Linked DNA regions of Homo sapiens: region 1 is linked to region 2. Evidence: fine-mapped QTL for protein levels in blood plasma. A gene starts in region 2. The other region holds a variant in brackets. All regions are shown on one strand. Distances are from middle to middle.

Region 1 (2,866 bases), 9.1 kb after region 2:
ATGAAAATATGCTAAAAGTTTGATGAAATATAAATGGTCAAATATATATTGATTATATCCACTTACTAGACTAGCACTCACTCTGAGACGTTAAAAATAGTCATTATAAAAACTAGAAAATGCCAAAGACAAAATAAAGGAATAAAGTTTTACATAAAGTATGATTCCACTATGTTTAAAAATAAACAGAGACATTCTTGGAGTTGAGTATTGTTTTCTTTTCTGTCATGTCCAAAGAACTATATAACTATTATTTTTAATGAACTATATATGTAATATATACATATAGTTTATATGTATATACAAAATTTATCTCATATATATGATAAAGATGAAAGATGAGTTGGATGTGCCACGTGAAGAGGGTAGTATAGAACCCCAGGTAATGGGGCATAGGAGTGGGATTCCAGATACCAGGCCCATGTTTTTGGGGTGAGATTGCCAATCACGGTCTTTCTTCCATCCCTCACAGAGGAGTAGGTTTGTCTTCAACAAACCTTCAGTTGTCCTGAAGACAAACCTAATTCTGGAGACTTCATATAATCTAGAAGAGACAAGCAAACTGATGAAAAATAGTGAATTTTTAAGGTAAAATAAAGTACATGGACTACACTTTGTTTAGAATCAGATTCTTGGGATTAACCACATTAACCCACAGAGGGTCTTAGTGATGCCTCTAATCCAGGATCCTAGGACCTATTTCTCTCTGTGAGATGCTTTCTCCCAACTCCTTGGTGAGAGTGGGAAGACTAAGACCTCAGCAATCTGAGGTGGAGGCCTAAGATCCCCCTAAGATCGGAGGCAGAATCTGAGAGGGGATAAAAGTCCCTATACCTGTATTGGGCCCTTTTCTGGGAGGGGGATATCAAAGAATGATTTTGAGACAGGGAGGCTTTTGACTACCTGTGCCACTTGAGCTCTTTGCTAGGGCTCCAGAATACATATTTCAAATACATTCCCCCTCCCTCCTTCCTTCCCTCTTCCACTCTTCCTTTTTATCTTCCTTTCTTCTTTTCCTTCCTCCTTCCCTTCCTTTCTCTGGCTCTCTCATGATTTCTTTTCCTCATTATAAAAGTGCTTATTTAGTCCCTACTCTGCTATTAGTGTGTTAGTCTTTGTCCCCTGGTACTTGCTGTTTAATGGAGAAATGGGTGAGCAAAACAGAAATTACAGCAGAGTGCAATGATAGAGCTAAGCCAGGTGTATAAATCCATTCTCACACTGCTGTAAAAAACTACTTGAGACTGGGTAATTTATAAAGAAAAGAGGTTTAATTGACTCACAGTTCCACAGGCTGTACAGGAAGCATGGCTGGGGAGGCCTCAGAAAACTTACAATCATGGTGGAAGAAAGAGCGAAGGGGAAGCAAGCACATCACACAGCAGCAGGAGAGAGAGAGAGAAAGAGAGAGAGAGAGAATATAGGGGAAGTGCTACACACTTTCAACCAGATCTTGTGAGAATTCACCTACTATCATGAGAACAGCAAGGGATAAGTCTGCCTCCATGATTCAGTCACCTCCTACCAGGCCCCTTCTCCAACACATGTCGACGTGCTATTTGGGTGGGGACACAGACCCAAACCATATTACCAGGGCACTGGAGAAACACAGAGGGGAAAGAACCAGCCAAGGAGTGAGATGGAGAACAAGGAGGACTTCTTGAAACAGATGACATCCAAACTGGGTCCTGAAAGCTGAATAGAGATTAGACAGGGGAGGAGGGGCAGCTAAAGATGGCTCAGGCAAACAAAGGGCCAGGGGATATGTTCATGGGATGATGTGTCTCTCGTTGTCTGCTTAACACAAGGTGAGTCTCTCCCTCCCTCTCTCTCTCTTTTTCTCTGTGTGTGTTTGTGTGTGTGCATGTGTGCAAATGTAATATACCCAATAGTCAAACATGTGCCCCAGGAGAGGGGTAGAGGAAGAAAGAGAATGAGAGAGTAAGAAGGAGGAATAGACACAGAAAATGAGAGAGAAGGGGGGAAAGAAAAAGAAGAAAGGAGCCAGAGGAGAGAAGCTGGTTAGCATTGAATGGAGCAATCTGTGTCATCGTACTTGGGAAACCCAAGGATGGATTCTTGGCAAGTCGACTCTTGGAGCTTTCCCTGTGCTTGGTCCTGTGCTCAGACATGGGAAAATTAGAGGAGTGTCATCTGTGCAATCACTGAATTCATAATCTTGGTGAGGAAAGGAGACTACACACAGGGAATAATGCTAAGTATTACAGATTTCAGGGCAGAAAGAGATCAAGGTGGGCTGCAATATTCAGAAAAGTCTTCCTGGAAAAGTTGAATACTTAGAAAGCAGCTCCTAGAAGTAGACTCTGCTGAGATGGACGGAGTCCTTTGTAGGTCCCAACTGGGTGTGTGTGTGGGGTCTGTCTCTCCATGGC[T/C]GACAGTGCACATGTGGATTCCAGGGCTCAGGATGCTGTTGCTGGGAGCTGTTCTACTGCTATTAGCTCTGCCCGGTCATGACCAGGAAACCACGACTCAAGGGCCCGGAGTCCTGCTTCCCCTGCCCAAGGGGGCCTGCACAGGTTGGATGGCGGGCATCCCAGGGCATCCGGGCCATAATGGGGCCCCAGGCCGTGATGGCAGAGATGGCACCCCTGGTGAGAAGGGTGAGAAAGGAGATCCAGGTAAGAATGTTTCTGGCCTCTTTCATCACAGACCTCCTACACTGATATAAACTATATGAAGGCATTCATTATTAACTAAGGCCTAGACACAGGGAGAAAGCAAAGCTTTTTTATGTTAACCATAAGCAACCTGAAGTGATTTGGGGTTGGTCTTCCAAGGATGAGTGTAGATGGTGCCTCTATAACCAAGACTTTGGCTTTGCTGCATCTGCAGCTCCTTTTCCATC
Region 2 (2,911 bases):
CTGTGGAGATGATATCTGGGGGGCAGGCAGACACTTGCCCTGCCTCTGTCTGAGAAAATTCTGTTTTGGATGTCTTGTTGAAGTTGGTGCTGGCATCCTAAGCCCTTGCTGGGGTCGTAATTTAATTCATCAGAATGTGTGGCTTGCAAGAACCGGCTCAGATCCTGCCCTTCAAAAACAAAACATGAGCGTGCCAAGAAAGTCCAAGGTGTTGAATGTTGCCACTTCAAGCCTAAACTTTCTAGGAACACCTAAGTGGGTGGCAGCTTCCAGTTCTCCAGGCTGCTTCTAGGCCAGAGCTGGGTTCCACAAGAGACAGAATAGGCATATATATGCTTAAGGAACTGGAAAAACAGGCTCTCTCTCTCTCACAAACACACACACACACATACCAAGGTAGCTGTCAAAATGTTATCCGAAATTTTGGAACCAAAAAATCTTGAAAGATGGTATTCCAATATCACATTTTATGTAAGTTTTCTATTATATTAGATTCAAATTACGATTCGAGGCCACAAGCTTTAAGAATTCAGGGCCTTTTTAACTTGCCAAGCCCCACACCACTCCAGGAACTTCCCCACACCCCAGTTCTCAGAATTCATGTGCAAGGTCTTTCCTAAATCCAGGGTCCAGGTCAGAGAGTGGAGGATGTGCTCTATTTCTTACCTGATTGCAGACCCCTCTGACAGTGCTCCCTTCTGAAGCACTCACTGTCTGAACGTACACAGTCTCAGACTTAATCATGCACAGTGAGCAAGACTGTGGTGTGATAATTGGCGTCCCTGACTTATTAGGGCAAATCTATGGGAGGGGGAGACCTCCTGGACCACTGAGCAATTAATTCATTTACATTAGGAAGTTTCTCCGTCAGATGCAGGAAAAAAATCTTGTTTTCCTGCTGTGGTTTTGACTTTTGCCCCATCTTCTGTTGCTGTTGTAGGAGGCAAAATAAGGGTCAAGGCCTGGAAACACAAGTGCTTTGACTGAAGCTCCACTTGGCTTCCGAAGCCCAAGCTGGGTTGTACCAGGTTCCCTAGGGTGCAGGCTGTGGGCAACTGCCAGGGACATGTGCCTGCCCACCGGCCTCTGGCCCTCACTGAGTTGGCCAATGGGAAATGACAATTGTGAGGTGGGGACTGCCTGCCCCCGTGAGTACCAGGCTGTTGAGGCTGGGCCATCTCCTCCTCACTTCCATTCTGACTGCAGTCTGTGGTTCTGATTCCATACCAGAGGGTAAGAGCAATTCTGTGAAGTTCCAGGCTGGGTGGGGGATGCATGCATAGCCTCTGGCTGGGATCACCCAGGCTCTCCCGTCCGTAGTAGTGTGGGAGTGGATACAGGTGGATACTCTGGTCAGAGCAGCACTGGTGGAGGCAGATATGCACTGGGCTTCTTCCTCCGTTCTCCCACAGCCCCAAGAGAGAAAGGGTTATTTCAGACATTCCTTCTAAGATGCATGGAACCATTCTGAATTTTGCCCAGTTCGCTCTGTAGCAGGATACCTATTGAGAAAAAGTTAGGGTCAGTAAGGTGGAAGGGTCTGTCCACAGATGAAGTCCAATTCGATTAAGGGGGATAAGGGAATACATTGCCTCTTAGCTTGACCAGGTAGGGCAAAGGAAGAAGCATATATGAAGGCAGCTTCAGAAAAGTCAAGCTGAGCACTGACTTCAGACTGGAATTAGGAATCCAGCTCTGCCACTTTATTCTACTCAGCAAATATTTACTGAGCAAATTCTATGGGCTAGACAGTGGATTGGGTTCACAAGATACAATGAGTGTGACATGGTTGTTGTCTATGGATTTGGGGATATATGTAGGTATAGGGATATCTTACAAGGTAATCAAGAGGTTCTAATGAGGCCAGCCATGGTGGCTCACACCTGTAATCCCAGCAATTTGGGAGACCGAGGCGGGTGGATCACCTGAGGTCAGGAGTTCCAGACTAGCCTGACCAACATGGTGAAACCCCGCCTCTACCAAAAATACAAAAATTAGTTGGGCGTGATGGCAGGTGCCTGTAATCCCAGCTTCTCGGGAGGCTGAGGCAGGAGAATTGTCTGAACCTGGGAGGCAGAGGTTGCAGTGAGCCGAGATTGTTGCCACTGCATTCCAGCCTGGGTGACAGAGCGAGACTTTGTGTCAAAAAAAAAAAAAAAAGAAAGAAAAGAAAAAGAGGCTCTAATGAGATAAAATGAGAAAAGCCTGGCATATAGTGGCAACTTATGAAAAATTGTAATTAAAAAAAAACATTTTCTGACAGAAGAAACTGGATCTACCTGGTTTTTCTGAAGCCTAATCCTGCTCGCCCCAGTGAGTGCTGTTTCTGAGGCATCCTGGTTGTTTTGAGCTGTGGATGCTGAAGGTTAGAGTGGGAGGGATTTTAGAGGTTAGGTCTGCCCCTCTTGTGTTAGAGGACATGGATCCCTGGTCTGGAGAGGTTCTGGTTTTTGGATCAAGCCTCACAAGGGGTGGCACCAACTCACTCCTAGGAACTCCGCTAGAAGGAAGGCCAGCTCTGCCTAATTCGGTTGGGGAGATGGGGGTCCCTTTATGCTAGCAGAATATGTCCGAAGGAGCATGATGGTGTCAGCTTTGTTCATGAAGGCCAGTGGTACACAGGGAGCCCGGCAGCTTCCTCAGCAGTCCCTGCTGCCACTCTTCCTTAAGTCTTGAGGAGTCTTTTTTTGGCACAATCTCAGCTCACTGCAACCTCCGCCTCCCAGGTTCAAGCGATTCTCCTGCCTCAGTCTCCCAAGTAGCTGAGACTACAGGCATGCGCCACCACGCCCAGCTAATTTTTATATTTTTAGTAGAGATGGGGTTCACCATATTGGCCAGGATGGTCTCGATCTCTTGACCTCATATTCCACCTGCCTCGGCCTCCCAAAGTGCTGGTATTACAGGTGTG

Alleles and levels. Positions count from the first base shown, and alleles are read on the strand shown. Strength reflects both the effect of a copy and how common the allele is.
As copies of C replace T in region 1, the plasma level of the protein whose gene starts at base 1,194 in region 2 goes down (moderate association).

Evidence for each region. PIP is the chance, under the fine-mapping model, that this variant and not a neighbour inherited with it causes the effect. The UK Biobank Pharma Proteomics Project read protein levels with antibody pairs (Olink). The fine-mapping took linkage between variants from a reference panel, not from the people measured, so its PIPs are less certain.
Region 1: its variant is fine-mapped to the plasma level of the ADIPOQ protein (UK Biobank, PIP above 0.99).

What each region holds. Positions count from the first base shown.
Region 1 is chr3:186,850,634-186,853,499 of GRCh38, forward strand. It overlaps ADIPOQ (adiponectin, C1Q and collagen domain containing), which reads left to right. Exons shown (of 3, transcript NM_004797.4): 2 at 2,418-2,639. The coding sequence starts at 2,426. It overlaps ADIPOQ-AS1 (ADIPOQ antisense RNA 1), which reads right to left. Exons shown (of 4, transcript NR_046662.2): 4 at 1,253-2,609. Among named protein-coding and RNA genes, the nearest start is that of ADIPOQ-AS1, 9.3 kb to the right of the region's middle. RefSeq lists an enhancer at 1-2,417. The variant T/C (reference allele first, on the strand shown) is at 2,394.
Region 2 is chr3:186,841,517-186,844,427 of GRCh38, forward strand. It overlaps ADIPOQ (adiponectin, C1Q and collagen domain containing), which reads left to right and starts at 1,194. Exons shown (of 3, transcript NM_004797.4): 1 at 1,194-1,233. RefSeq lists a promoter at 518-1,216, a cis regulatory region at 618-645 and an enhancer at 1,234-2,911.